Linked DNA regions of Homo sapiens. The protein of the gene in region 7 purifies or fractionates together with the protein of the main gene of each other region. This does not show direct contact. Each region holds a gene or a part of one and is shown on either strand. Other genes may lie near its edges.

Region 1 (4,628 bases), on a different chromosome or scaffold from region 7:
GTCTTTGGAAAACACTTAAACTGGACTTAACACGCAGTACATGGTCAAAATTATTAGATATTTATCTAGCTTGTTCAAGCAGCAGGCTACTGGATAAATTGCAGGGTGGCAGCTTGAACCTTCCGGAAATGCTAGATAGAGCAATTTCAAATTCTACAGAAAGTAACTGGTGTGTGTGTGTTTGTGTGTGTGTATGTGTGATGTTTCTACCACAGCAATATGAATAATTATGATTAAAGGATTAATAGTTTTAATATGCTTTTAGTGCTAAAGTTACAGTTGCATAGTAATTTTGACAGTCAGAAACATTGCATTATCCTTTACATTTAAAGAGAATTTATATTTCAAATAGTTGTGTTTATTAGCCCTAGGTAAGAAATTAAGCCAGGAACAGAAGTATTCATCTTTAACCAAGTGTAATTCTTAATCAAAGTATGAAAACATGTGACCCAAGGGTATCCGGTTATTTACTTTTGCATGTGCTGATGTCCAAGGCCAACAGATAAGCCATAAGAAGTGTTAGGCTGATTGTGAGTCGTTGTTTTATTTGTAAACTTTCATGAGATTGGGTGTTCAGTTAATTCAGGAAATCTACTCATCACATTGTTGACTCATTTCCTAAAATCTAAAAAATTTTTTAAATGCCTTCATCTTGCCAGGCGCTGTGGCTCACACCTATAATCCCAGCACTTTGGGAGGCCAAGGTGGGCGGATCACCTGAGGTCGGGAGTTCAAGACCAGCCTGACCCACATGGAGAAACCCCATCTCTACTAAAAATACAAAATAAACCAGGCGTGATGGCGCATGCCTGAAGTCCCAGCTACTCGGGATGCTGAGGCAGGAGAATCACTTGAACCCAGGAGGCGGAGGTTGCGGTGAATCGAGATCGTGCCATTGCACTCCAGCCTGGGCAACAAGAGCAAAAACTCTGTCTCAAAAAAAAAAAAAAAAAAAGCCTCCATCTTTAAAACAAACCCTTTAAAGCTTCTTGTTTTTGTCCTAATGCACGTCAGGTGCACAGAATTGGGCTGAACCAGGATCTTAGCTCATGCCACAGATGATTTCTCATTTTACTAATTGCTCCACTGGGACACAGAGATGTGGTTTATAATAATTTTAAATAACTATAAAGGGTACAGTGTGATTATTAATTGTTTCTTGCCTATGACATTATGCTCTGAAACAACTGAAGCATTTGATTGAGTAAATTATTGATTCGTTTCACTCCTAGAACATAACATAATGATTTCTGGCTCATACTTCTAGGTGAGTAGACTGTGAGCAAGTTACTTAATCTATGCTTCAATAAGTGTTGTGAGGAATAAATGAGCTAATCTATGTATATAGCATTTGGAATAGTGCCTGGTGCATAGTCCACATTCAATAAATGTTAACATTAAATTATTGAAATTTTCTCTAAATGTTGTATAATGAGCATGCATTATTTTTGTAACAGGAAAACAGCTATACAAAATTTTAATATTTCCCCCAAATCTAAAAAAAGCTCAGTAATTTAAATAGTCCTGCCAAATAGTACTTAAAAAGTAAGAGAATTAGACAATCATCATTTTGTCTTTTAAATGTGAAATGGTTTGCAATATTAATTTGTTAAACAAGTTAATTCTTCCAAATCTCAATTCCATTTTCTTTTTTATTAGAGACTTTAAAAAATCAGTAATACATGAAGTCTGTTACAGTTTAAAATGGGGAAAAGCAGTATGCACAGTTACATTGTGTTATTACAATTACAGCTAGCTTAAAAATTATTTTTAAACCATAAGAAAAGCCTAGAAGAAAATACAGACAAATTGGTGATGGGATTATGGTGCTCTCCCACCCCCAACCTGCTTTTCCCCTATTTTCCACAATGCGCCTATATATATACTAAAATATAATTCATTTGTGTAATAGTTACTAAACAAATCTGGTTTATTAACTACAAATACTAAAAAAAATTTGCGTAATAGTTACTAAAAAACAAATCTGGCTTGTTAACTACAAATAGCAGGATTTTATTGTTGTTTTGGAAAAAGCACCAACTTTATGGCAGTTGAATGTCCTTCGGTTAAATGTCAAAACCTTTGCAGTGAGAATTGTTTAGCGGTAAAAGAGAAGGCCTTTCAGAAGCTTGTAGTTTGATCTTCATGAAGAATATTTGAAAAGTCTACCAGTGGGTTTTTAGGATCTGCATATAGACCTAGTCCACCAACCTTGACTTTATGGAAGTTGTGACTTCCCAGATCCAGGCCTGCCTTGATGAGCTGCGTTTTTACAGCACCTTCAGTATATCAGACACCTGGAAGACAGTAATGAGGCAGATATTGGTGCACTTAGTTTAACAGGAAGGTTGGATAGATAAAAACTAATTACAGCACAATTGTATATATTATATATCCTGAGCCCTTTCTAAACTCTTCCCGTATACAGTCTTGCTCAGTTGTCACAACAGCCCAGAGGAGGAAGCTGAGGTTCCTTAAAGGTCTGAACCTTGCTCAAGTTGCAAGGACAGAATTTGACCCAGAAGCATCTTAACTCCACATCTCATGCCCTCTGCACGGAGATGGAGGTGCATCCAGCCAGAGGTGAGAGTGAAGTGGGCTTTATGGAGTCAGTTTTGCTTAAAAACTATAAAACTAATCAAGAGAAACATGAGGAGGAGACTCCTTTTAGGTGACCTTCCTGAGGAGAATCATCAGTGCCTCTCCATCAGGCTTGCCACTCTTTAGCCATAGCAGTTAACACTTCCAAATGGCTGCTGAGACCCAGCAGGCCTGAAGCGCACACAAAGGCCCAGTCCTTGGTGACCCTGTGAAGCCTACCTCTTTCATCCCTGGACTTCCAAAGGGGGTCTGGATAGTACAGATGAAGGAACTGACTCGCTAAATCCTGTTCTAGAACCAGCACATACCCACAGATCCTGACCTCCCCACTTTCCTCCCTTAGGAATGACAGGAGAGTAGTTAACAGGTAGCATGGATCCAGGGCAGATGGTGGAGGTGACTTGACTTAAGATAACTTGTAGCTAGATTATTCCATTTATTGGAGAGTCTCTCTTGAAAATCATATCTGATGTCACTTAAGTGTTTGGTTTATCATGTTAGTCTTTATTGGGTGTCGTAAAAGTGCTCAGTTGTGAAGTGTCTGGTTACCATCCTGTGACAAGGAGGGTTTTTGTCTTCTTTTAATGGGTCTGCATTTCAGAGAATTACTGTATAATAAAAACTGGAGTGTTGGCTGGGTGCAGTCGCTCACGCCTGTAATCCCAGCACTTTGGGAGGCCGAGGCGGGTGGATCACAAGGTCAGGAGAGCGAGACCATCCTGGCTAACATGATGAAACCCCGTCTCTACTAAAAATACAAAAAATTAGCCGGGCGTGGTGGCGGTCGCCTGTAGTCCCAGCTACTTGGAAGGCTGAGGCAGGAAAATGGCGTGAACCTGGGAGGCAGAGCTTGCAGTGAGCCGAGATCGTGCCACTGTACTCAAGCCTGGGCAACAGAGCAAGATGCCATCTTAAAAAAATAAAAAAAAAAACTGGAGTGTTGGAGACTGTTAAGAATTAATACTTTCAGTTCTGCCAGAGGGTTAGTATCTAGAAGTTCTAAGAGATTGGTTGCTAAAATCTTCTGTAATTTTCAGTTTCATTGATTGTATAATAAGTGGGTGACTTTGGGCCCAGAGAGTCAGAAGGCTTTGTATTCTGTATGCTTTCTGACACAGTAGGCCACCACTCCCCTTGCAGGCAAGGTCATGTAATTGACATAGGATCCCCTTTAGTTGACCGAAGAGAGAAGTATAAGCTCTGGTTGAACTTGAGTTTGCGTGATCACACATGCTCACTGGAGTGAAGTCTGAATCAGTTGCCATCTCTGCACTTGCATTGTGTGTAGAGAATTGTCTTGATTCAGAATGGCTTTGTGCAAACTCACATGAGCCCATTGGAGGCAGAATCTTAACTTCATTGATGTGAAATAATCAGGCTTTTATTTAGCTTCAGATGGCACTAGCCAAGACGTCCTTGACCACTGGACACTAAACCCTTAACTCCCCACTGGGACCCTTTGACTCAGACCCCAAGCTTGCAGTTACCTCAAATTTTGTGTTGTTTTGGGGGGATAAATTATTGCAGAGGAAAAACATAAGGTTTTTTCTCAAATGAAGACTCAAACTGAAATCCATTAAATCCCAACATGAGCTAAATCTAAGGGTGGAAAGAGGAATCAAAATCTAAAAGCCTCTTGGACTTTATTGAGGCTTATTGAAGACCTTATTGAGATAACATCATCATACCAAGTTTAACCAGAATCTCAGGCAAATTAGAAAGGTGTAACCTTTAGACTAGGTGCCTGAGCTGTGCCTAGACTAATGAAATCTTCTGAATTATTAGACCATGGCCTGCACATTAGACCATGGGGCTTCATGTGGGTATATAAGGTCATGATTGGCTGTGCAGATAAGTTGTCATGGGAGGGTTGGATGTCTGGCCAAGAAGCAGAAGGAATGGATTGTGACTTCTTGACAGGGATACCTTGAACTGTTATACAGGTTGTTCACTGCACAAAAGTGCCTGGGCAAGGAGGCAAATGGGAGGCTCACATCTGCTAAACAAACAAAACCACATGCATCCTG
Region 2 (3,898 bases), about 14 Mb from region 7:
CATTAAATAAGTGCCCCCAAATAATCTGATTCAAGTCACTCATCCTCCTGTTCTCTGAATTTTGACAACTTATATAACATCACCTCTAAAAGCATTGCATTTTCTTATCTTTCTAATACAACAAATAAAGGAAATGGTTGCTCACTTCTATGTGAGGCACACAAAAAGATAAATGGCAAGTAACATGAAGGGAGAAAATCAGGCTGACTTTGATCTGTCAGAAAAAAGAAGCTTTCAGAGCAAAATTCATCAAAGGCATTTAATTCCTATTCTACAGATTAAGTATGAGTAGAAGCAACGCAAAAGGGCCCCGTAGACCTGGAAGATGAGGCTTAGCTCATGTAAAAATGCAGCATCCTCATAACTGCTTTAATTATATTTTCCACAGATATTCATGAAAATAGAAGGCAAAGAGAAGGGATATTAAAACAAAGGTATATTAAGCTTTGAATATTCCAGTAAAAGGCACCAAATAAACATAATGTATTAATATATTAGCTCAACTAGTTATTTTAATTCAGTCAGATTCACCCATAATCCAAAGCACTCTAGTTTGTAGGGGGTGGTTCTGATATGCATACATACTTACTGAAAAAAGTTAACATGAAAATCCCATCATTTCCTATCCTCAGCTGGTCAGCATCATCAAAATCATCCCGACCCACAAAATCCTCATCCTAAATGAAAAGAAAAAGAATTATTTCTAGGCAAAGGGAAGACATAAAGAAAAATGAAGGGTTAAATTTGAGTAGCAAGGAAAAAAGTTATTGCTTTGGTTCAGTTCAAAATTATGAGCATTAAAGGCTCAATGTGTGTTTAAAATTCCATTTTGCATTATTAATATATAATTAGAAAAGAAGCAAATCTTTCTTCTATCCCCAGTGTTCTAAATGAAATTTTCATCTTATAACCCAAGTTCTTTAACAATACACTTCAAAAATTTAATACACTTCAAAAACAATACACTTCAAGAATAGTTCACAAAGAACTATTTACTCTTCCTTTAAAAAAATATACCTCAAGAAAAGACAAAAGACAAAATTTACTTACACATTTGGTTTAAATTCTAGAATATCAGTAATCGAGGACCTGTTTAGGACCTAAAATATTAGTAATTAGAGATAAAATCAGCCAGGTGCAGTGGCTCATGCCTGTAATCCCAGCACTTTGGGAGGCCAAGGCAGGCAGATCACGAGGTCAGGAGATCGAGACCATCCTGGCTAACATGGTGAAACCCGTCTCTACTAAAAATACAAAAAAATTAGCCGGGAGTGGTGGCGGGCACCTGTAGTCCCAGCTACTCGGGAGGCTAAGGCAGGAGAATGGCATGAACCCGGGAGGCAGAGCTTGCAGTGAGCCAAGATCCCACCACTGCACTCCAGCCTGGGCAACAGAGTGAGACTCCGTCTCAAAAAAAAAAAGATAAAATCAACCAGCTCAAGTGCTTTACGAGGCTGATATAGGGGAAAAAAGAATAGTACGATCATACATGAATAGTCCACAGAACTGCCCACTGCTCAACTCCATAAGCATGTATTTGTATTGGTATACAGATCTAAATCTCACTTCTAACCTTATCAGCAGATAAGATCTTTTCCATCCTAACTTGATAACGTAATATTGCAAAACTAGAAATAACATGATCATGAACAATACCAACACATGTGGGCTATCTTTTTAACTGATATAGGTGTGTGTTGAGATATTTAAAAATAATTGAATATATACTTAAAAGTGATAGATTTGTACACAGTTCAATGAGGGCTCCTTAAATGAAAAATATTTTAGGGAATATCAAAACTTGTTGTACACAGAAAAGGGTCTGGAAGACCCAAATTGTTAACAGTGGTTCCCCTGGGGAGTGGGAACTAGAGAAAGGGAAGTCGGTGGCAATGGCAGCTTCCTTTTCTAACTTAACATACTTCCTCTATTGTTTGAAATTTCTATAAAAACGAATTTTTATAATTAATTTTTTAAAACATTAAATACCTAGTATTCTTACTTCGTATCAGCAGAATAAGGTTTTGCCAAAATTAAAAGCTAATTGTTTTTTGCATAACTATTCAAAGATATACTCCAAAAAATATATGGAAGTAACATCTAATAATATTACGAACACCTTCTAACTGTTCTTCCTGTCCTCTTGGTATCTCTTCTACCATGATGCATCCTAGAAATTGCTGCCAAGTTAATGTTTCCAAAACACCACACAAGTCCTCTCATACCCCTGCTCAAAAACTCTGAAGGATTCTCTAAAAGCTACATATGAAGTTTAAATACGCCCATCTAACATTCCAAAGATTCTATAAACAACAGTTGTAGTCAGGACTTTCTATCTCCCTTCACAAACTCTTGCTCATACAAAGCCAATTACTACATCCACAGAACTGCCTTCACCTGGCTGAATTCACACCTGCTTTCTGTGCCTTTTTCCCTCTGGAATGTTCTTACCCATCAAAACTCCGGGCCCACATCAAATCTCATTTTCCCCTATGATCACCCAGTAAAAAGTTTCAGTTCTTGATGCCCACTGCTCTTATGTGTCTTAGTTATCAGTATTTGTGGGCCCTTTACCCTAGTTGGATTTTAGGCTTTTGAATAACAATGAGGAACACTGCCTTATACAAAGCTTTTTACCTATCCACTGTAAAATATACTGCATCTTATATTTAAAAAGTGCTTTATACATGTCTGCTGAATACTAGAGCCCTTTAAGAAGTTCCTAAATATGTACTTGTATCAAATGAAAGTATTCTGAAGAGTTATGTGATTAATCAGAGCTAATTTCCATACTGATCTATTTACCATATATTGCAACAGATCTGCAGAGTACAGTGAAACAAACAAGGACTTTGGATTCTAGAATATCTGGGTTTGACTTTCACTTCTGCTACTTATCAGTCATATGACTTTGGGAAAATTACTTTTTCTCTCTGGACCTAAATTTTCACATCTGTAAAATGGAGATAATATAATCTCTACCTTTCAAGGTTACTATGAAGATTGGAAACAATATACAAAATATATAAAAGCATCAAGCACAGTACCAAGCATGTGGTTTGCTTCCAATATACGGCAGTTACATTATGATGGTCTTGCCCTTAGACACTAGGGTTTTTAGTTTCTCCCTGGTACCTGTAAGAACTGAATGCACATCATCGCCATTTAGGATCATCCTAGATTGGGCTCATAAACTATTTCTACCAAGCAATGATTTTAGGAGCTTCGCTCCTCACAGTAGGTGTGGTCTGCAAACTGTCTACTATCTTAAAGCCAAGAGGGGAACATCTGGGCCTATGCCATCACACTGCCCAGACTAGGCTTCTGTACTTGCTCATCACTCACTCCAGTTACTTGCTAGAATAGAGCCTAGAGGCCTGATGGTCCCCGCATTTCTGGGGACTTATCCTGCTTCCATTCTCCCACAATGCCCTACCTTCATCAGCCTCAATCTGGATGAATATTTACAAAATGACAAATGCAGCACTCACATATCTGACATCAAGAACCAAGAGTGCCCAATAATCTCCACTGGTTTATATGGCATCCCAATCTCCACCTCCATGAATCAACATCAGGCTAGATGGAATCTGAACTCACTATGTCCCCACAAATGACATGATCTGGACTGCTGGAAGAACGGAGTTCATCTAAATCAATGTGAAGATCCCTCTTATGAGTTTAATTCTACAAATTTGCATATATTTATTCTCTTCCTAGACCTCCCTAGCAGCTATCCACCCAACAGCAAAATATTAAGTGTGCAGAATCAAGGAAACATTAGTGTGCTTCTGCTTCAAGATACTTCAGCCATCCCAGGAGACTTGAAAAAGTAGTGGTAATAGGAGAGATGAAGGAAAAATGAGCAGGTCTGACTAGTAATTTACCTCATCATTTT
Region 3 (4,628 bases), on a different chromosome or scaffold from region 7:
CCTCAGGTGATCCACCTGCCTCAGCCTCCCAAAGTGCTGGGATTACCGGTGTGAGCCACTGCGCCCAGCCGATTATATACATTCAATAAATTAAATTTAAATATATTAAATTTGGTCAGGCACAGTGGCAGCAGTCTGAGAGTCCAAGGCAGGAGGATGGCTTGAGGCCAGGAGTTTGAGACCAGCCTAGACAACGCAGTGAGACCCCATCTCTACAGAATTAAAATAAAAATATTAGCTAGGCATGTAGTGAGTGCCTGTAATCCTAGCTACTCAGGAGGTTAAGACAGGAGGAATGCCTCAGCCCAGGAGTTCGAGACTGCACTGAGCCAAGATCGCACCACTGCACTCCAGCCTGGGCGACAGAGCCTCACTCTGAATACATAATAAATAAATAAATATAAAATATTAAATTTAATATCTCCCATTTCTGTTTATTTTTTAATGTGGCTACTAGAAAATTTAAAATTGCATATGTGGCTTGTGTTATTTATCTGTTTGGCAGCACCCCTTTTTGTTTGTTTGTTTGTTTGTTTGTTCGTTTTTGAGACGGAGTTATGCCTTGTTGCCCAGGCTGCAGTACAATGACACAATCTCAGCTCACCGTAATCTCCACCTCCAAGGTTCAAGTGATTCTCCTGCCTCAGCCTCCCAAGTAGCTGGGATTACAGGCATGCGCCACCATGCCCTGCTAATTTTGTATTTTTAGTAGAGATGGGGTTTCTCCATGTTGGCCAGGCTGGTCTCAAACTCCTGACCTCAGGTGATCCGCCCACCTTGGCCTCCCAAAGTGCTGAGATTACAGGTGTGAGCCACCTCGCCCGGCCTCTGGGGGGCCTTTTATCTCATACTTTGCACATGATATTAACTCGATTGCTCTCAAAGACAGTGCACTTAGGTCGGGTGTGGTTGCTCACGCCTGTAATCCCAGCACTTTGGGAGGTGGAGACAGGTAGATTGCTTGAGCCCAGGAATTGGAGACCACCGTGGGCAACATGGCGAAACTCCGTCTCTACAAAAAACACAAAATATTAGCTGGGCGCTGTGGTGTGCGCCTATAGTCGCAGCCACTGGGGAGGCTGAGGTGCTTGAGCCCAGAAGGCAGAGGTTGCAGTGAGCGATGATTGCAACACTGCACTCCAGCGACAGAGCTAAGACTCTGTCTCAAAAAAAAAAAAAAAAAAAAAAAAAAAAGAGGCAGCACACAGACTCCAAGGTTCTAAGCCCAGCTCATTCCCTAACTCGTTCCATGGGCTTGCACAAGAAGTCACTCAACCTCCTCGGGCCTCAGTTTCCATATAAATAAAACGGGAAAAGTAAGATAACTGTGAAGATGAAATGACAGCACAGTGCCAGGCACACAGTTCAAGCTTAATGACTGTGTTCCCCAGAGCAGCACCCCCAAGAGCTCCCCTGCACTCACTGGGGTCACAGTCATTGATGTCCTGATCGCAGGAAGGGCCAGTGTACCCTCCATGGCAGGTGCAGCTGAAACTCCCTGCCAGGTTGGTGCAGATACCATGAGGGCCACAGGGTGCGGGGCCAGCACACTCGTCCACATCCTGCTGGCATCGTGGGCCTGGGGGTAGGGAGCAAGGTTACACCTAGGGTTACAGGGTACAGAGCAGGGTCTCAGGGACCTGGGGCTCAGGAAGAACCTGCAGGCCGAGATGGGTGAAGGCAAAATAAGCCGTGCTGTCATTCGTGTCTGGGCATTTTGCATATGCAGTTTCAGAATGGCCGTCTCCCTGTCTCAGTAGGTGGCAAATACCTACTATGAGGTCTGCTCCTCCAGGAAGCTGTACCCTAAACCCCGCCCTAAGTCCCAGCATCTCTAGCCCCATAACTCTTCCTCTTCCAAGGGCTGACCCACACAGGCTGCATATCAGTGTCCAGCTCTGTCCTTCCAAGAAGGAAGCCCCTCTCAAAGGCAGGGCTGGGGATGGGTCCCTCTCTGGATCCCCAGCATCATCCCTGATAGGGTAGGGGGCAGAGGAGATGGAGAGGAGGAGGGAAGAGAAGCAGGTGGCATACCTTGCCAGCCCTGGGGGCAGGAGCAGACAGGCAGCTGGCCAGGGGCAGACTCGCAGCGGCCCCCATGCTCACAGGGGTTCGGGGTGCAGGGGGAGAGGAGTTCACACTGACGTCCTGTTGGGGGTGGAAGAGAGGGAAGCAGAGATAGCCTTGAGGGACTCCCTGATCCCATCTCCCCCCACCTCCCCCAACCCCAGGGTCCCCACCTTGATACCCACCTCCCAAGCTCCTGGAGGGAAATGATTGAAAGCAAAAAAGAAGCTAACATAGCGGGAGGAGAGAGTAGAGGAGAAGAGAGATGAGAAGGCCCATGGTGTTGGTGGGGCTGCAGAGGGAAGGTGAGGTACACACCCTGGACACCAGGCGGGCAGGTGCAGTGGAAACCCATTCCATCGCTGCTGCATGTCCCACCGGCCCTGCACGGCTGGGACTCACAGGCGTCTCGGGCCAGGCTCTGGCTGCAGCGGGGGCCACTCCAGCCAGGCTCACACACACAGCGGAACCTGGCAGGGGAAGGTAGTCAGGCCAGGGAGGTGGGCCAGGGAGAGGGGGCAGTGTCTGAGGCTGAGAAGGGCCCTCACCCGCCAGGTGCATCATAGCAGATGCCGTGACTGCAGGGCTCATGGGCACAGGGATGGCTCGGGGGGAGGCAGAGTGGGGGCAAGGAGCCAGGCGGGCAGAGGCAGCGGAAGCCATTTTCCCCATCCACACAGGAACCTCCCTCGCCGCATGGGCTGGAAGCACACTCATTGATCTCCACGTTACAAAGGGGCCCTGGGGAGTACACAAGCAATCTCATCTCAGAACAAAGTCAGCAGGGACAACCAGGGAGGGACGACGTGACCCCACTTAGCACACCCACACCCCCGAGCAATGACCTCTTTTTCATAACGCATCAGCTCTTGTGCAGATTAGGACACCCGCCTCCTCAACCAAGAGCTGACTTGCCCCAGATCATTCTGGTCCCCAAACTTCCATGAAGTCCCTTTCTTTTTCTTTTCTTCTTCTTCTTATTTTTTGAGATGGGGTCTCACTCTGTCGCCCGGGCTGGACTGCAGTGGCATGATCATAGCTCACCACAGCCTCCACTTCCTGGGCTCAAGCGATTCTCCCACCTCAGCCTCCCGAGTGGCTGGGACTACAGTTGCGCACCACCACGTCTGGCTAATTGTGTGTGCATGTGTGTGCGTGTTTATCTACGTATTGACTAATCTGGCTTTGGGAGTGTGTTTATTTTTTGTAGAGACAGGGTTTCATTATGTTGCCCAGGCTAGTCTCGAACTCCTGGGCTCAAGTGATCCTCATGTCTCAGCCTCCCAAAGTGCTGGGGGATTACAGACATGAGCCAACACACCTAGCAAAGTCACATTCATTTCCACTAAGGATTAGTTTAGACCCATTCAGAAATAACCTAGTCACTGAGTTTGGACACTTTCATCTATGTTCCAGAATAATCTTTTTGTTTGTTTTTGTATGTGTGTGTGTGTGTGTGTGTGTGTGTGTGTGTGTGTGTGTTTGAAATGAAGTCTCACTCTGTCGCCCAGACTGGAGTACAGTGGCACAATCTTGGCTCACTGCCGCCTCCGCCTCCTGAGGTCAAGCAATTCTCCTGCCTCAGCCTCCCGAGTAGCTAGGACTACAGGCGCCCACCACCACACCCGACTAATTTTTGTATTTTTAGTAGAGATGGGGCTTCGCAACGTTGGCCACGCTGGTCTCGAACTCCTGACCTCAAGTGATCCACTTGCCTTGGCCTCCCAGAGCGCTGGGATTACAGGCGTGAGCCACCGCGCCCAGCCTGCAGAATAATCTCGAAACAACCTTATGCCAATGAGACAGCACAGACTCAGGGCAAAGCACGGACAACCTCGTTGGACAAGAGTCTGCAAAGATACGGGCAAAACAGGCCCACAGAGACGAGTGACTTCACCCTCGATCTAAGGACCCCCTCTCATGGCAGCCACTTGCCCACCTGTGAAGCCAGGTTGGCAGACACAGTCGTAGCGGTTGATGCCATCACGGCAGACTCCAAAGGTGCAGGGGTTGCTGGCACAGTCGTCAATGTTCACTTCGCAGTTCACACCTAGGGGCCAGGAACATGGCATGGAGTGGCCACCACTGTGCCCCACTAGATGCACCATTCCCAAACCCTCTGTGCCCCTCCAGGTGTGCTGTTTCTGCCCCAGCCCCCGGTCCCACCTGTGGTCCCAGAAGGGCAGCGGCAGAGGTACTTGTCCACCAGGTCTAGGCATTTGCCGCCATGGCGGCAGGGCTGGCTGCGGCATTCGTCCACCTGGCTCTCGCAGCGTGTGCCCGTGTAGCCAGGAGCACAGGCACATGAGAAGCTGGCGATGCCATCCACGCAGCGACCATGGTGGCATGGGTCAGGGGAGCAGTCGTCCACGTTGCGATCACACAGCGTGCCCTCAAAGCCTGTGGGGCCAAGAGGGTCAGGCTCCGCCCACTTGCCAGGGGCCTGCCCACAAGTGAGGCCTCGGACCAATCCTGGTTCAGCTCTATCTGAGGCCCTGCCCATCAAGCTGTCAGGAGGCGAGCTCAATACAGGCCCCACCCCCCACCCCCCACTTACTTCC
Region 4 (4,628 bases), on a different chromosome or scaffold from region 7:
TCTCACTCTATCGCCAGGCTGGAGTGCAGTGGGTGTGATCTCAGCTCACTGCAACCTCTGCCTCCTAGGTTCAAGTGATTCTCCTCCCTCAGCCTCCTGAGTAGCTGGGACTACAGGTGCACACCACCACGCCCAGCTAATTTTTGTATTTTCAGTAGAGATGGGGTTTCACCATGTTGGCCAGGATGGTCTCAATCTCTTGACCTCGTGATCCACCCACCTTGGCCTCCCAAAGTGCTGGGATTACAGGCGTGAGCCACCAGGCCCAGCCAACTAATATAGTATTTCTAAAGGACTATTTGACCTATGCAAATTTGTTAAGAGAATTTTAACCCTAGAAACAGCATAGGGGCAACAGATGAAAACTTAGCCAAACCAGTTTTTTGTCTGTCTATTTAGAATAAATATATGTGGCTCTGGATAAGGCTGTGTGGGCACTCTCTGGTCCTGCCAAGTTTAACTAATTCTGGGAATTTCCACAGTCACTTAATAGCTCAGGAGTGTAGAAGTCAGATATGCCTCTTAAGTACTTTATTCATCTATATTTTCAGAATGGGGCTAATGGCATATCAGCTTACAATATGTTGAATGAGAATTTAGGAAAATATTAACTCCATCTTGAACACACTTTCGTGCCATGAGGCATAGAAGGGTTTGTTGTCCAAGACTCAGATTAAGCTCTAATAATTTGGACATCAAAGTTGATATGGCTCAATGGCTCATTTGGAGGGTGGAGGTATAGGGAAAGTTATTTTCTGTTGCTTTATACTACTCTGAGGTAGAATTAGCTCACAATAAATAACTGTTTCTGACAGCCTGTTTATCTCTATTTACAGCTACTTTCCAAGCTGTCCCTATACCCAGTAGAGTACCTTAGGGAGAATGAGGTGATATTTAAAACACACACACACGCCCCACTGTACAATAAGCAGGTACTACAGGGCCATATTCAGGCACTGCAGGTATACTACGTTGGGACCTGAGAAGATTCTGTATTTTAAGTGTCTATTTTGGATCACATTGAAGAGTTTGGTGTCAGTCAATCTGCTTCTTAGATTCATAGAGATACTTTTTCCTTTCTTGAACAAGTGAAATATTGGGCACTGAAACCAAGTGTGTTATATTCAAAATAATTTGTGGATTTTATAACTCATCTAAATAAAGCTCCTCGCTACCTCATTTTGCATTACCTACGACTAGGACTCACGGATTATCAAAAACTCACTTTTCACAAGAAAGGACCCAGCTATTCCTCTATTTAGCTAGCTACCACACTCTTAATGTTCAAATGCAATCTGATTCACTATTTAACTATTTGAACACTCTTACATAATTGCTTTGGTACATAAAATCAGCAACTTCACAATTATTAACAATTACAGCATTTTACTTTTTCAACAATATCTATTCAAACTTCGATTGATAGAATTTCAATGTATAAATCACATTAAGGAGTATTTCAAGTTATATCTAAAATACTTACTGTTATTTGAAAGTAGTAAGTCCAAAGGTCACACCTCTCATACTGACATTGTTACATTAATTCCATATGATAGTAACTTAAGCTATTACATGATGGTAGATCACACACAATTCAGGGATGCTAGAAATGTTAAAAGCACACCTTCCAAAGACCCAAGCTAAATGGCAGATTTTGGCAAATTACTAAGGACAAAGGTGAACTTCTGAACATCCCTAAATTGGAGAGCAATTTGGCAGTGCCCACCAAAATTCAAATTGTACTTACCTTTGACATGGCTAGTCCATTTCTAGGAATTTATTGTAGATGTACAAAATGTTCTATTAACAAAATATTAACTATAGCACTGTTTCTTAAGCAAAAGATTGGAATGTCCATTAATATGGAGGCTGGTTAAATACCTTGTAATACTATGACAGGCTACATGTTTAGCGGTATTATGGCAGCAATCTCTGGAAAGTGACTCCCTGGGCTCTAATCCTGAGCCCTACCACTTATAAACTGTGTGACTGTTGGACATTTAATCATCCCGTGCCTAGTTTTCCTCATTTGTTAAATATAGAAAAATAGTGCCTATCTCATAGGTTGTTATGAGGCTTCCATGAGTTAATAAAACTAAAGTATTAAGAAAGCATTTGGATCAGGAGTAAGCTCTCAATAAATGTTACATATGATGATGAGGGTATATTAATACAATTGAATACTAAACTATCATTAAAAAGAATGAGGCAGTTTTAACTGTATCAATGTGAAAAGATCTCCAACGTAATACTCAAGCGAAAAATGTAAGGTCCAGAATAATACGAAGAGGTGCTACCATTTGTGGATAAATATATGGGGGAAGAAAAGAATAAGGATGAGGGGAGAGAAAACACACTTGTATGAATATATAAATTTTACCATATTTGTACATGTATTACCCATTCAACTGAATTAAAAATATTGTTGGATGAGTAAATGAATGTTAAAACAACTGAGCCAAGTAAAACTATTATATATTGCACCTAATTGACTGAGCAAATAATAGCACATATTATTATTACATATATATTTTTCTGAGACAGGGTCTGGCTCTGTCACCCAGGGTCTGCAGTGGCACGATCTCAGCTCACTGCAACCTCTGCCTCCCAGGCTCAAGCAATCCTCCCACCTCAGCCTCCCGAATAGCGGGAACTAGATGTGTGTGCCACCACGCCTGGCTAATTTTTTTTTTTTTTTTTTTTGTACAGACATGGTTTTGCCATGTTGCCCTTCAATTCCTGGGCTCAAGCAATCCGCCTGCATCGGCCTCCCAAAGTGCTGGGATTACAGGTGTGAGCCACTGCACCCAGCTGGCAAATATATATACGGTCCTTATGTGCTAGTTATTATTCCAATCGCTTCTATTATTCACAACATCCAATGAAGTTAAATACTCTTATTATCCTTATTTTAAAGTTGAGAAAAATGCAATGCAAAAAGACACAAGTAACTCCTCCAAAGTCACACCACTAGGAAGCAGAGCCAGGATTTGACTCACACAGTCTGGTTTCCTTCATCTCTTTGTTATATTAATACTACTCTAAAATTATTTTTATTTACATATATCCCAACTCTTGTAAAAAAAACTTTGGACAGCTTACATTAAAGCACATATATGCAATTAATAAAACTGGTAATGAAAAGGGGAAGTAATACCAATGTGAGAAAAAAATACAGCTACTTTAAGTATGCAACAAATCCAACTCTAAAGCATCTGCTATTTTCTGTCTAGGCTTTGAATGATGTATTCTACGGAGATACTTTTAAAAGGACAGAAATCAAGTATTAAACAATTATAAGTACTTTTTATTTTGCTTCTTTAAAGAAGTTCTTGTTTAAAGTTTTCTTAAGGCAAGTTAATCTTGTAATCCAGTTTATATGCCAAAACCCAAATAGGGACTTTTCTTATGATTCTGTCATATGATTAAGTCAGGTGACAGATCCCACACTTGTGCAATGTGCTCTACACTCTAAGGCAGAAAGCGTGTCGATAGCACTGACTATCCATACCAAAAATAACATGCCAAATTTGTAATCCTATCTAGTAGTCCCTATCATTTTTTGGTACATTTTTCTTTTCTTTTTTTTTTTCTTACTTTTGAGACAGGGTGTCGCTCTGACGCCCAGGCTGGAGTGCAGTGGCACATTCGCAGTTCACTGAAACCTTGAATGCCCCGGGATCAAGTGATCCTCCCACCTCAGCCTCTTGAGTAGCTGGGACTACAGGTGCATGCCATCGTGCCCAAATAATTTTTTTAATTTTTAGTTTTTACTGGTAGAGGGGGGTCTTGCCATGTTGCCCAGGATGGTCTCCAACACCGGGCTCAAGCGATCTACCTGCCTCAGCCTCCCAAAGTGCTGGGATTACAGGCGTGAGCCACCATGCCCAGCCTGTTTTTCCTAATTACAGAAACACTTCATGTCCACTGTAAAAATAAAAACATATAATGTAAAGTGTAAGGAAGAAAGTAAATCATCTTAGTGCCCATTGTTTCCCATAATCCATCATATACACAGACATGTACAAACATGTAGTTTTATATAAATATGTTACTATGGATATTCTGTCTCTTTCCTTTTCTGCTTATTTCCTCTTTCCAACGGTGACAACCAGGTAAAAATATACAAAACTCATGGTGTTTTTCAACTGGTTTTATAAAAAATGAGTTATCATTACAAATGTTTCTCTGTACTTTGTATTTTTTTTTCTTAAGATACATGATGGCCTGGGCAATAAGGTGAAACCCCGTCTCTACCAAATATACAAAAAATTAGCCAGGTGTGGTGGTGCACACCTGTAGCCCCAGCTACTCTGGAGGCTGAGGCGGGAGGATAGCTTAAACCTAAGAGGAGGAAGTTGCAGTGAGCCAAGACAGCACCAGTACACTCCAATCTGGGTAACAGAGCAAGATCCTGTCTCAGGAAAAAAAAAAAAAAAAAGACACATGATAGAAATCCTTTCAGAATGTACTTGGAAATCCTTTCTAATCACCAGTAGATTTAACTCCTACCATTTAATCACTTCACAACATTCCATAAAATGCCTCGGCCATAATTTACATAACAATACCCCTATTAACAGGCATTCCCTTTGTTTCCACGTTTTTTGCCACTACTAACATTGAAA
Region 5 (4,346 bases), on a different chromosome or scaffold from region 7:
CTGTCCAGTCATAAACCCCTTCCCAATTTCACAGACTCTAAATCAGCTCGAGGAAATGAATGCTTAAGGAATGTAGCCACAAAGAAATTATCAGCTCAGAAAGGGAAGGATTTCACATTGCTTCATGTACAGTGTGTTGAGACTAAACAGGCTGATAAAATGGGTTAGATTGTAGTGGGATAGAAAAATAATATCCCAAAGCAGAGGATAGTTAGTATCTTATGCATGTATTAATTGTTCTATTAATATTAGATATTTTTAAATGTCCAATTAAAATAACAGCACTTAAACTTGAACAGAAAAACGTGTTTAGAGAAGAGCCCCCAGCTTAAAAAGACTTGTACTTTCCCATTATTCTTTACAGAAATGATACTATCAGAGGAAAAGGTGGCAAATGTGAAACTAATAACCAGTTACTACAAGAAGTACAGGGAATTCTTTGCCCCTAAGAATAACTTTAGTCAAATAGAGCTGTTTCAACCATAGGGTTAACTACCTTCTCCTTCTTGAGTACTTTATGGAATTTTCCATTCCTACAGATGGCTGCACCCCATTGATGTTGGCTTCTCTCCGAGGAGGCAGCTCAGATTTGAGTGATGAAGATGAAGATGCAGAGGACTCTTCTGCTAACATCATCACAGACTTGGTCTACCAGGGTGCCAGCCTCCAGGCCCAGACAGACCGGACTGGTGAGATGGCCCTGCACCTTGCAGCCCGCTACTCACGGGCTGATGCTGCCAAGCGTCTCCTGGATGCAGGTGCAGATGCCAATGCCCAGGACAACATGGGCCGCTGTCCACTCCATGCTGCAGTGGCAGCTGATGCCCAAGGTGTCTTCCAGGTAAAGAACATGAGAAGAGTCACTTGAATAATAATTCCTATGGCTCTATAATGTTTTATCGTTTTTAAAGAATTAATATCTCATTGAATTTATTCAATCATTTGAGAGATTAGGGCAGGTATTAGAGTCATGCTTGGTAGATGGGAAAGTGGGAAAAGGGAGGCAGGCAAATTGACCTAGCTATATATAGGAAGATAGTGATAGAGCCAACTGCAGACAACACCAGTCTTTCTGATTATTAGTGATAATTTGTTGTGCCAAGATGCCTCCCAAATGCGTAGATTAGATGAGAGTGATAGCTGGTCCGGAGCCTTTGACTAGTATCCGCTACTTCTTATGGATTGGCCTGACTGTATGGGCTTCTAGCTGCTCATTGGCAGTTTTCTTGACCTGAGTTCATATTATATTCCCTGATGCCTGTTTATCCTTATGAGGAAATTGGAAGCATTCTGAATCACCTTAGGCTGTATCCTGACTGAAGTTGTGATATTTCCCCACATCCCTCTTCTTTCCTGAGAAAGTAGAAGGCTCATCACTTTACATCAGCCATTATTTATTGAGCATGTATTTATTTATTCATGCAACAAATATTTATTGATTGATCATGATAGAATCTTGGGCACAAAGATAACAAGACTTTCCCTCTCCTCCAGGAATCTACACTGTAGCCTCAGCTCTGATGCCCTTGTTTCTTCACTGAGTTTCATTATTTTCCTTCATCCAGGTGACTCTCTTTTCTGTACTTTCTCCTCTTCTAGATTCTGATTCGCAACCGAGTAACTGATCTAGATGCCAGGATGAATGATGGTACTACACCCCTGATCCTGGCTGCCCGCCTGGCTGTGGAGGGAATGGTGGCAGAACTGATCAACTGCCAAGCGGATGTGAATGCAGTGGATGACCATGGTAGGGATGAAAGGCAGGGATTTGGATTCTTACCTGCAAAGCATGCCTCTGACGAGGGGAATAGAGTTACGTGACCCTTAGAGAACTGCCTGAGATCCAAATACGTGAGAGATTCACTCATTCTTTCATTCATGCATTTATTTAACATGCTGAGCTCAGAGATCCAAGCCAGTAGGAGATCCCTAATTAAAATGAGGGATTTTTAATGAGGGTTCTTGGACCTCAGAGCAGATACATGAAAGGTGTTCCCATGTAGTTTCCTAGGCATAACACTTGATTTGAGGATTTATGAGAGCTGACTTCTCTAGGAGAGTTGTAGAATATTCTCAATATAAATTCTGACATGTAATATATAGGTTTTTATCTTCAGTATGTAACAGGGTAGATTCTGCCATGTAGGGGACATGAATGCCTCATACAAGTGATCCTTTCACCTAGAGGTCTTCTGCAGGCTAGGCAGCCTGTACTGAAGTATTTCTAGAACAGAGGAAAAAGAAGAGATTACTTTGGTTTTTCCTATAGACCCCTACAGAGAACTGCTTCCTGCTGATCTCTGGGGAGTTTAAGATTTCATTGTGCAAGTCATAGTGTCTTATACTAAGAGTAGGATATGTCTGTTTATAAAAATGTTTCTCCCCTGCAGGAAAATCTGCTCTTCACTGGGCAGCTGCTGTCAATAATGTGGAGGCAACTCTTTTGTTGTTGAAAAATGGGGCCAACCGAGACATGCAGGACAACAAGGTACAGTTTGTGGGCTCTGAGCTTGAGGAGGCTCATAGCAGTGCCTCAGTTATAAGCCCATTCCCGTTTCTCCTTACAGCTTCTCTTGTTATATGTATAGACAAAGATGGAAGCAGTTTGGGCAGACACTGGGTTTCGAGAGCTTGATGAGGATATTGGGCTTGTCCAGGCATGTGTCAGGATGGAGTTCTCTGCCCTCTCAGTACTCAGCTTGCAGTAGGCTGGCTATAGATAGCTTGGTGTAACTCTTTCTCTTCCCTGACATTTCCTTTTCTCCAGTTGTCTCTTCTGTTCATAATCACTTCTTTTTCTCGTTTTCTTTCTTTTTTCCCTCCGGCTGCTTTTTTTTCTGTCCTTGGATACCCTGATGTTTTCCTGTTTGATTTTTCTCCATCTGAGTTTTTTGTCCTGCTTCCTTCTCTCATTCATCTTCTCTCAGTTTTCTTTGTTTTCCTTATCTTAGTCCTTTCTTGCACATGTTTTGTCTCTTCTTTCACTGTTTCCCTTACTTTTCCCAGTTCTGTGCATGCCTTAGTTTTTTCTCTTCCTACCTTTCTTATTTCTAACTCCTTTTCCTATTATTTCTTATTTCTAACTCCTATTCCTACCTTTCTTATTTCTAACTCCTTTTCCTTAACCTTATTTTGATAAGCTCAGTACTCTTTTAAGTGAGTCTCTGGCTCAGGGGCATGCTTTATTTTATGAATTCCCAACTAAAGAGATGTTCCCCCTAAGGGGCAAAATTGTTTTTTTGAGGAGAGGTGAAATAATCTTACTTTTTTTATGTGTAAATCACAGATACACATTCAGTACATTGGTAGAGGCACAGCCTATCTGTGGTGTTAATATTTCATCGGGGAGATAATTAGGAAAACATGTCTAAGGGGGTGATAATAAAAAAGATTGAGAAAAACTGCTATATTCTCAAGAGTGTTATTAACATGTGTTCTGTGATGGGCCTTTTCTGTAGGAAGAGACACCTCTGTTTCTTGCTGCCCGGGAGGGGAGCTATGAAGCAGCCAAGATCCTGTTAGACCATTTTGCCAATCGAGACATCACAGACCATATGGATCGTCTTCCCCGGGATGTGGCTCGGGATCGCATGCACCATGACATTGTGCGCCTTCTGGATGAATACAATGTGACCCCAAGCCCTCCAGGCACCGTGTTGACTTCTGCTCTCTCACCTGTCATCTGTGGGCCCAACAGATCTTTCCTCAGCCTGAAGCACACCCCAATGGGCAAGAAGTCTAGACGGCCCAGTGCCAAGAGTACCATGCCTACTAGCCTCCCTAACCTTGCCAAGGAGGCAAAGGATGCCAAGGGTAGTAGGAGGAAGAAGTCTCTGAGTGAGAAGGTCCAACTGTCTGAGAGTTCAGTAACTTTATCCCCTGTTGATTCCCTAGAATCTCCTCACACGTATGTTTCCGACACCACATCCTCTCCAATGATTACATCCCCTGGGATCTTACAGGCCTCACCCAACCCTATGTTGGCCACTGCCGCCCCTCCTGCCCCAGTCCATGCCCAGCATGCACTATCTTTTTCTAACCTTCATGAAATGCAGCCTTTGGCACATGGGGCCAGCACTGTGCTTCCCTCAGTGAGCCAGTTGCTATCCCACCACCACATTGTGTCTCCAGGCAGTGGCAGTGCTGGAAGCTTGAGTAGGCTCCATCCAGTCCCAGTCCCAGCAGATTGGATGAACCGCATGGAGGTGAATGAGACCCAGTACAATGAGATGTTTGGTATGGTCCTGGCTCCAGCTGAGGGCACCCATCCTGGCATAGCTCCCCAGAGCAGGCCACCTGAAGGGAAGCACATAACCACCCCTCGGGAGCCCTTGCCCCCCATTGTG
Region 6 (4,628 bases), on a different chromosome or scaffold from region 7:
TTTGTCTGCTAAACATTATTCCCTAGGTATAAGTAAATTGATAAATTCCTGTGTCAACATATGTAGACTTTTCTGCATCTTTTTTGTAACTGAAAAAGTAATACAAGCACATGGTTAAAAAATCAAGTAGTATTCAAAAGTAAACAGTAAATTATATTAGTGTCTCTTCCACCAAGACCCTCAGTCCTCATTTCAGAGGCAACTAGGTCTGTGAATGCTTCTAGAAATATTCTATTATATACAGGAAAACAGGTCCACAACAGCCCTCTCAACTCCCTTTTAAAAACTGCAGATAGGAACATTCTGTACACAAGGTTGAAAACTTGATTTTTTTTCACTCGACAATGTAATCATGAAGGCTATTCTATGTTAATATACTGTATACCTATCCACCCCATTCTTAACAGTTGCATAGCATTTCCTTATATGAATGGGACACACAGTGTCTTCTGGATGCCAAGTAGCCAGGTAGTTTGTAGTCTCTTGATATGACAGACAACATGGCTATTATCAACAATATCTTTACATGTGTGCAAATATATCCACAATGAATTATTTGAAGATATAAGTAAAAGTGTACGTACTTTTTTTTTTTTTTTTTTGCCCATGACACAGCACTCAGGATGTCCTAAGAACATGTGCCCTACATTTTAAATGTTGATAGATACAGCACAACTGCCCTCTGAAACACTTATATAATTTTTACAAACATCACCTCTGGATAGGTCCCCTTCTTGCAGCCAACTTACATGAATAAACCACAGAAGATTCACTATGATGACTGTAGGAAGAGGATGGAATCGGGGTCTAAAGTGAGCTTGTAATGAGTGGTGTGGGAGAAGCTGGGCATCCAGAAGTGGGTCGTCTTCAATACTCTGGGTGATATCCAAGGAACCCTGGGGTGCAGAAAAACAAGCAACCTATAATCACCACTTTCTAGATTATGTTTCTAAGACAAATCTACTAAACTACAGAGCTTTTTAACCACATACAAATTAAAGGCAAGAGAACACATTGCCTACCTGAATCCAATTTTTTAAAAATTAATTATTAATTTAATTTAATTAATTAAAAAATTAATTAATTTTTTAAAAACTGTAGCAACACGGTCTCACTATGTTGCCCAGGCTGGTCTTGTTTGTTTGTGTTTTGTTTTTTGTTTTTGAGACAGTCTCGCTCTGTTGCCCAGGCTGGAGTGCAGCGGCGCAATCTTGGCTCACTGCAACCTCTGCCTCCCAGGTTCGAGCAATTCTCCTGCCTCAGCCTCCTGAGTAGCTGGGACTACAGGTGTGCACCACCACACCCAGCTAATTTTTTTTTTTTTTTTTTTTGAGATAGAGTTTCACTCTTGTTGCCCAGGCTGGAGTGCACTGGCACAACCTTGGCTCGCCGAAACCTCCACCTCCCGGGTTCCAGCAATTCTCCTGCCTCAGCCTCCTGGGGTAGCTGGGATTACAGGCATGCACCACCACACCCGGCTAATTTTTTATTTTTAATTTTTAGTAGAGATGGGGTTTCTCTATGTTGGTCAGGCTGGTCGCGAACTCCTGACCTCAGGTGATCCGCCTGCCTCGGCCTCCCAAAGTGCTGGGATTACAGGCATGAGCCACCGTGCCCGGCACACATCCAGCTAATTTTTGTATTTTCAGTAGAGGGAGGGTTTCACTGTGTTGGCCATGCTGGTCTCAAACTCCTGACCTCAGGTGATCTACCCACCTCGGCCTCCCAAAGTGGTGGGATTACAGGCATTAGCCACAGTGCCCGGCCCCAGGCTAGTCTTGAACTCTTGGCCGCAAGCTGCAATTCCAGCTACTCGGGAGGCTGAGGCAGGAGAATCACTTGGACCCAGGAGGTGGAGGTTGCAGTGAGCCGAGATTGCGCCACTGCACTCCAGCCTGGGCGACAGAGAGACTTCGTCTCAAAAATATGGATATATACTGCATTGTATATACTTTTAATTTGCTAAGAGTGTAGATCTTAAGTGTTCTCATCACATGTTAAAAAAAAGAAAAAAAGAATATGGTTCATGGGAAGCACATAACAAATCAGCAAATGAAAAGCATAGAAGACAATGCCAAAAAATTTAGGTCAGCTAACTGCACTACAATGAGACAGAAATGAAGGATTCATGAATAGGTTTTGGCTACACAGAATGAGAGCTCTTTATTTTGGAAGTAGGTAGTAGGACAAATGATGTAAGAGATGGCTGTTGATTGCTAAGATTACAAAGATAAGGACAGTAATCTAGGGTGTAACCTAGCTCTGGAGTGGGCTCCTCAATTTCCAGTAGCAGGTATTCAACACTGCTCTGCAACTGTTTTTGTTGTTTTGTTTGTTTGTTTGTTTTTGAGATGGAATCTCGCTCTGTCGCCGAGGCTGGAGTGCAGTGGCTCAATCTCGGCTCATTGCAACTTCTGCCCCCTGGGTTCAATCGATTCTCCTGTCTCAGCCTCCTGAGTAGCTAGGATTAAAGGCACGCGCCACTATGCCCGGCTAATTTTTGTATTTTTAGTAGAGATGGGGTTTCGCCATGTTAGCCAAACTGGTCTCAAACTCCCAACCCCAGGTGATCCGCCTGCCTCAGCCTCCCAAAGTGCTGGGATTACAGGCATGAGCCACCGCGCCTGGCCAAGTCTTTTATTCAATGCCTAGATTGCTTCCTGTTTAGTTTACCATAACTCATGGTACAATTCAGATTACTCCTGTTCTCTTCAAGACCCCTCTGCCTCTAGCTCATTCTCAGTCAGCAGATGTTGGAGCCTTGAGATCTGCTCTTCCCTTAGCTAATGTCTGTGCATTCTTTCATGCTCAGAAGGGGCAATTCCCACCACAGGGCCTTTCTGGATACCCCTAATCTGGATTGTGCCACCCTCCATGTTTTTCAAAGCATTCTGTGCTTGCCTCTTCTATCAAACTATCCTGTGATGGTCTCTTACTTATCTCTTCTCCACTAGACGTCATTGGACCCATTACCTTTACACCTCTTGTCTTTGTAATCCCAGCACTCAACACTATCTCATGGTTGTCACTCAGCAAACATTTGCTAGATGAATGAATGAGTGCCCCAAACCTGTTTCTGCAGTATTTTCTAATTCAATTATGGGCATCATCAAAGACCTGGGCTAATTAGAAGAGATTATCAGGACATACGGGGGATCAACTGTGACCAAAGGCAGTAAGAGCTGTGGTTAAGGTCAGGCTCCTAAGGGCAAACTGCCTGGATTCAAGCACAAGTTTTACCGCTTTCTAGCTGAGAGCAAGTTACTTCATCTCTCATGCCTCAGTTTCCACATCTAAAAAGGAGACTAATAATAGCACCTGCTTCGTAGCTCTGTCAGGAATACTAAATGAGTCACTACACATGCAAGTCCTCATGACACTGCCTGACGCACAGAGAGCACTCAATAAGTATTAGCCACTATTATTTCTTTATTAACTCTTTTCTCTTTTTAATATTTTTTAAATTTTAAAATAAAAATCAACAGGGTCTCGCTATGTTGGCCAGGTTGGTCTTGAACTCTTAGCCTCAAGCAATCCTCCCAAGTGCACTCCCAGTGTGCTAGGATTACAGGTGTGAGCCACCACACTTGGCCTTTTTATTAACTCTTACTTTTGACTTGCACCCCGCTATGGTCTAAATGTTGGTGTCCCCCAATAGTTCCCTGCTTTCCTTTGGGAAGTAATTAAGCCATGAGGGTTCCCCCCCTCATAAATGAGATCAGTGCCCTTATAAAAGAGGCTTGAATGAGCTCCCTTCCACCTTCCACTGCGTGAGGATGCAGCAAGAAGGCGCCATCTTTGAAGCAGAGAGCAACCCCTCCCCAGGGCTCTTGGCACCTTGATCTTGGGCTTCCTGAATCCGTGGCTGCCTTAATCTTGGACTTCCTGTCCTCTAGAACTGTGGTCAATACATTTCTATTTGTAAATTACCCTATTTGTATTTTACTATAGCAACCCAAACAAAGACACTACCCCTATAATCATTACCATTCTATCCACTCAGTGCTGGGGCATGATAAAAAGAGAAAAAATCATTACCATTCTAACTCCTAAACCTGTTATTTCCTCTCTATTCTCACTATCTTAGTCCAGGCCCTCCCATTTCTCATGGCCTTTTATTAGAAGCTTCCAGTCTTCTGGTCTTGGCAATCTCTTTCACTGCTCCAAGACAAACATTCGTGTTTCTCTCCTCAAAAACTTTGGGTAGCTCCCTATGATGGTCAATATTAAGTGTCAAATGGATGGCAAAGTATCGTCTGTGAGGAGCCAAACATTTGAGTCAGTGGACTGGGAGAGGAAGACCCACCCTCAATATGGGCAAGCACCATCCAATCAGCTGCCAATGCAGCTAGAACAAAGCACAGAATAGGCGTATAAGCAGCTTGCTGAGTTTTCTGGCTCTCTCTTTCCTGCGTCAGATGCTTGCCTCCTTAATTCCTGCCTTTGGACATCAGACTCCAGATTCTTCGGCCTTTGGACTCTGAAACCTGCACCAGCAGCTTGCCTGGGGCTCTCAGGCCTTCGGCTGCCGACTGAAGGCTGCGCTGTTGGCTTCCCTGGTTTTGAGGCTTTTGAACTTGGACTGAGCCACTACCACCTTCCCTTTCCCCAGCTTGCAGGTGGCCTAT
Region 7 (4,628 bases):
TCAGGAAATGGAGTTATATCACAAATTCTTTTCTATTATCACAGCATTTCTGAAATATTAGACCCAGACAGCCGGTATTAATTTTTTTTAATTTAAACTGCATGGTTTAGATGATAAGTAGGGACACTGAAATAGGTTTTATTTGCAGTGTCACTTGCATTCTTTACCATCAGTTGTACCCAGCCAAGTCCTCAATTTTGATACTAATGTATTTTTCATTTCAAAAATTACAATATTTCTCACAGTCGTGCTGCGTTTGGGAGATACACAGTCATGTCAACATACATGAATTTTATGAGAAGGAGATAGAGGTGAGAGTTATGGAGCAGTGTGGTTTGGTAGCCATATTATTTCATCGTGCAAAATCATTTGTCATGTTTGCATATATCACAGCAGCATGAAAAGTGACATTCTACAGAAGTGATCAGATGTCCTCGTATGGATTTCTGCTTTTAAAATTTTGGTGTAGGAGTTTCATGATAGTCATTTGCTTGCTCACAGAATCAATGCTGTTTTTTGTTTTGTTTTAACTCCTGGGAATATAAATGGGAACTCCTTGGTGTATTGTTCTCAGACCTGCAGCAGATGGGTGCCCTTTGAAGGAGCTCCCACCATCTTTCTGTGGTTCAGAGAAAGATGTGGTTATATGGCTTTAGAATTGGGTGCCACATATTGGGGACAAAACATAGGTAAAAATGAGAAGTCTTTCCTTAGACTAAGGTTTCACTGTGATAATTGTAAGAATGTGTTAGTATGTCTTCAACTCCCATCTTTCATTTATATTGCAGATAACAACTTTGTCTTTTAAAAAGTTTTGAGCTTTAAATTATTGAGATACCAGATTACCAAAGAAATAGTTTCACAGAACAGGTATAAACTTGATTTGTCCAGTTTGACTAAAACAGCTTTTCAAAACAAAATCTAGCAGCTCACTGTAATTTTTTTTATTGTTATTTATGATTCTCTTACATTCATTCAGAATGCTTGAAAATATTAGTAAGTAGGCAGATAATTTGGATTGGTTTAGCTATTGTAAAGAGTTATTTCTCTCTAGCCATTTATAAAGTATACTTTTATTATAAACAACTGAAAGTTTATGGTAGATGCCGTATACAATTGTCTGAATTATCTGTAGTATAAACATCTGAATATACAAACATTAGGAAATGATAGGAATTCAGCAAAAGGGACTTTAATATTTACTTTGCTTACATTTTATATTTTGCTTAATCCTTTAGAATCCAAAGGCCCTATTGTGCCTTTAAATGTAGCTGACCAAAAGCTTCTTGAAGCTAGTACACAGTTTCAGAAAAAACAAGGAAAGAATACTATTGATGTCTGGTGGCTTTTTGATGATGGAGGTAAGGTTGTTAATTTTTTTAAAATGATTTTAAATTTACTGACATTGTGAGAATAGTAAGAAATGACATGCACTCTTTACCTGTGGACCCCATTCAAATTTTGCCAGCATTCCCAAAAGCAAAAGGATTAATTTCAGAATCAGGCACAGCCTTTAGTTGTCTGGTCTCTTCAGTATCCCTAATGCGGAGGTTGTTCAGTAGTATTTCCTTGAGCTTCATGACCTTAACTTTTTTTTAATATGAACCATTTTGTTGACTGTAACCCAATTTGAAGTGCTAGTTAATGTTTTATTATAATTAGTTTTAGGTTATCTACCTTTGGCAGAAATATCACAGAAGTGATGCTGTGCTCTTCTGTCTACATCTCATCAGGTGGCACAGGATGTTGATTTGTACCTTCACTGGTGAAATTAACCATTGAGTAATATATGATTTTCACCACATGTATTCACTGAAAAGTTACCCCACCCCCTTTTATAATTACAGGTATTGGGGATGGCACAGAGGGATTACTCTGAGACTATGTAAATACACTATTCTTGCAGCCTTCACCACTATCTTTAGGATCCATTGATGTTTCTGCCTGAATGTATTGTTATTGTTGTGGTTGCCAAATGATGATTCTCCTATTCCATCATTTCTTCCTCATTTATTAGTTGGCATTTTATTGTAAGGAAGAGCTCTTTATTTCTGTCAGTGTGGACTCATTGATTCCTATTTTATTGATATTCAGTGGGATATGTATTAGACTGTTCTTGTGTTGCTTTGAAGGAATACCTGAGACTGGGTAGTTTCTAAAGAAAAGAGGTTTAATCTGCTGATGATTCTGCAGACCACACAAGCATGGTCCTGACATCACTCAGCTTCTAGAGAAGCCTCAGGGAGCTTTTACTTATGGCAGAAGGCAAAGCAGGAACAGGCACATCACATGATGAAAGCAAGAGTGAGAGAGTCATAGAGAGGAGACAGAGATGCCACACACTTTTAAATCACCCGGTCTCATGAGAACTATCACAAAGACAAGCACCAAACCTTGAGGGACTGACCCCCATGATCCAAACACCTCCCACTAAGCTCCACCTCCAGCACTGGGGATTAATTACAGTTCACCGTGAGATTTGGGTAGGGGCTGATATCCGAACTATTCCAGGATATAATTTGTTACTTTCATTTGTTTTGATGTTCCAATTGTCCTATATTTCGCCAGCAGAATCCTCCTTAGGCTCATTTGTTTCCATTTATCATGTCCCAATCGTTCCTTTTTTTTTTTTTTTTTTTTTTTTTTTTTTTTTTTTTTTGCGACTGAGTCTTTTTCTGCCACCCAGGCTGGAGTACAGTGGCGCAATCTCGGCCCACTGAAAGCTCCGCCTCCCGGGTTCACACCATTCTCCTGCCTCAGCCTCCCGAGTAGCTGGGACTACAGGCACCTGCCACCATGCCCAGCTAATTTTTTAGTATTTTTAGTAGAGATGGGGTTTCATCGTGTTAGCCAGGATGGTCTCGATCTCCTGACCTCGTGATCCACCCACCTCGGCCTCCCAAAGTGCTGGGATTACAGGTGTGAGCCACCACGCCCAGCCCATTCTTTTGGGTTATTTTCTAATACAAGAAGATGTTCCAGGCTCAGTTTTATTGTTTTGCACTTTCCCTTCACAGCCACGAAAGTAACCCTTTCCAAGGAATGCTGGTTCCTTTTACTGAATCATAGTGTTTAGAAACAAAGATCAGGGCATTGGATATGCTTGTGTCTACTGGAGTGTCACTGCTCCCAGGCCTTCTCCATGGACAGAGCCAGGAACTCCTTGTGTGTGTGTCTGTGGAGATATAAATGGAGATCAAAAAGCAATTTCAGTCCAGCTTCTCCCTTTTCATATTTCTAATTTCAGTGTTAAACATGGCTCCTGCTAAGGTCAATAATTATACTTATTTTCTCAATCCTGTTGTATGTGACTGATCTCGACCTTACCAGGCCACTATCCCATTTGGCTACCTTCCTTGAATGGGATCAGACTCCGTTAGGAGTCCCTTGTTTCTCAGGTCTGCTAATGGCTTTTTGACTGAATTATCAAGGAAGGACAGAAAGATTTTTGTTTCATATGGAGTTGTAGTAAACATGTTTTTCGAGACTAAATTGATGTTCCTGATTAAGAAATTTGCATTTAGTAAATGATTTATTACATTTTTATAATTCAGGTTTGACCTTATTGATACCTTACCTTCTGACGACCAAGAAAAAATGGAAAGACTGTAAGATCAGAGTATTCATTGGTGGAAAGATAAACAGAATAGACCATGACCGGAGAGCGTAAGTTTATTTCACATTGAAGGGCATGAATCTATTAGCACTTCATTGCTACAGTATAAATTTGATAGGATAAAAATTAGACAATCCAGAAAATGTCTATTATCTTGCTTTGTTCTTTACTGAAGTTAAAAATTTTAAATATAACCTTGTTCTCTTTAGTCTTCATGTTTAACTAGTAAATACTTAATTTTACTTAGATATAATTTTTTTTAACATACTAGCATTTTAGAAGGTCCTTCTTAAATACTTGTAACATTAAAGTGTTAAGCAACTTCTTTCTTTTAATCAGGGAGAAAATGCACAAACGTTACATATTTATATATGAGATAAATTTTGTTGTAGACTTCTAGACAACAAAATGCAGGATGCCATTGTCATCCATCCAATTCTTTCCATCTATACTGTCACGATTCTAGTTCTTGTTTCAGTATTTCTCTCCTGCTCTCTAAGTACTCTTGTTTTGTCTTTGACCTGTAACATGTATATTGTACAGAGTACATAATATGCATAATCTTCAACCTAATTAATATGTATATTGTACACATTATGGGTCAAAGGTAAGACATGGGTACTCAGAAGCATTGAAACCCAGTTTTATTTTTCAGAAAGCAGAGTTTTGACCATATGATTCCTCTACCCAAAATAGTTAAACGACTTCTCTGCTACCTGCCATAGAAAATCTAATTGTTATAATGTAGCAGTCAAGGCCCTTGACAGTCTGTCCTCTCATTCCCTTTCTATTCTTCTGTTTCCCCCAGTGTTTCAGTACACTTTTCCCTATGCTCTAAACATGCATGTGACTTCAGGCTTTTACTCCTTTGCCTCCTCTCATCTCTCTCCTGTAAATAGCTCTTCACTTGCCTCTCCTTTTATCTCTTTAAATACTGCATTCTTTAAAACCCAGCTCAGTTCTTCATAGTGCCTTTCCTATTTTCCCCCCACTTACCCCCCCATCTAGTTGT

Evidence for each region.
Region 1: the proteins of SLC12A2 (region 7) and GNG12 fractionate together in Homo sapiens (co-fractionation; one large-scale study listed by BioGRID). This does not show direct contact.
Region 2: the proteins of SLC12A2 (region 7) and NDFIP1 purify together in Homo sapiens (affinity purification with mass spectrometry; one large-scale study listed by BioGRID and IntAct). This does not show direct contact.
Region 3: the proteins of SLC12A2 (region 7) and NOTCH3 purify together in Homo sapiens (affinity purification with mass spectrometry; one large-scale study listed by BioGRID and IntAct). This does not show direct contact.
Region 4: the proteins of SLC12A2 (region 7) and ATP6V1A purify together in Homo sapiens (affinity purification with mass spectrometry; one large-scale study listed by BioGRID and IntAct). This does not show direct contact.
Region 5: the proteins of SLC12A2 (region 7) and NOTCH2 purify together in Homo sapiens (affinity purification with mass spectrometry; one large-scale study listed by BioGRID and IntAct). This does not show direct contact.
Region 6: the proteins of SLC12A2 (region 7) and TMEM192 purify together in Homo sapiens (affinity purification with mass spectrometry; one large-scale study listed by BioGRID and IntAct). This does not show direct contact.

The regions. Positions count from the first base shown.
Region 1 is NC_000001.11:67,826,330-67,830,957, reverse strand, and holds part of GNG12 (guanine nucleotide-binding protein G(I)/G(S)/G(O) subunit gamma-12), read left to right. Parts: intron 1-4,628. UniProt on the Homo sapiens protein: Guanine nucleotide-binding proteins (G proteins) are involved as a modulator or transducer in various transmembrane signaling systems.
Region 2 is NC_000005.10:142,132,509-142,136,406, reverse strand, and holds part of NDFIP1 (NEDD4 family-interacting protein 1), read right to left. Parts: intron 678-3,898; coding exon 590-677; intron 1-589. UniProt on the Homo sapiens protein: Activates HECT domain-containing E3 ubiquitin-protein ligases, including NEDD4 and ITCH, and consequently modulates the stability of their targets. As a result, controls many cellular processes.
Region 3 is NC_000019.10:15,182,872-15,187,499, forward strand, and holds part of NOTCH3 (neurogenic locus notch homolog protein 3 precursor), read right to left. Parts: intron 4,468-4,628; coding exon 4,234-4,467; intron 4,118-4,233; coding exon 4,007-4,117; intron 2,809-4,006; coding exon 2,616-2,808; intron 2,538-2,615; coding exon 2,386-2,537; intron 2,149-2,385; coding exon 2,035-2,148; intron 1,580-2,034; coding exon 1,424-1,579; intron 1-1,423. UniProt on the Homo sapiens protein: Functions as a receptor for membrane-bound ligands Jagged1, Jagged2 and Delta1 to regulate cell-fate determination.
Region 4 is NC_000003.12:113,753,507-113,758,134, reverse strand, and holds part of ATP6V1A (V-type proton ATPase catalytic subunit A), read right to left. Parts: intron 1-4,628. UniProt on the Homo sapiens protein: Catalytic subunit of the V1 complex of vacuolar(H+)-ATPase (V-ATPase), a multisubunit enzyme composed of a peripheral complex (V1) that hydrolyzes ATP and a membrane integral complex (V0) that translocates protons.
Region 5 is NC_000001.11:119,915,807-119,920,152, reverse strand, and holds part of NOTCH2 (neurogenic locus notch homolog protein 2 isoform 1 preproprotein), read left to right. Parts: intron 1-539; coding exon 540-841; intron 842-1,599; coding exon 1,600-1,747; intron 1,748-2,390; coding exon 2,391-2,488; intron 2,489-3,458; coding exon 3,459-4,346. UniProt on the Homo sapiens protein: Functions as a receptor for membrane-bound ligands Jagged-1 (JAG1), Jagged-2 (JAG2) and Delta-1 (DLL1) to regulate cell-fate determination.
Region 6 is NC_000004.12:165,102,201-165,106,828, forward strand, and holds part of TMEM192 (transmembrane protein 192), read right to left. Parts: intron 897-4,628; coding exon 750-896; intron 1-749.
Region 7 is NC_000005.10:128,177,329-128,181,956, forward strand, and holds part of SLC12A2 (solute carrier family 12 member 2), read left to right. Parts: intron 1-245; coding exon of another isoform or gene 246-289; exon of another isoform or gene 290-311; intron 312-1,238; coding exon 1,239-1,361; intron 1,362-3,554; coding exon 3,555-3,666; intron 3,667-4,628. UniProt on the Homo sapiens protein: Cation-chloride cotransporter which mediates the electroneutral transport of chloride, potassium and/or sodium ions across the membrane. Plays a vital role in the regulation of ionic balance and cell volume.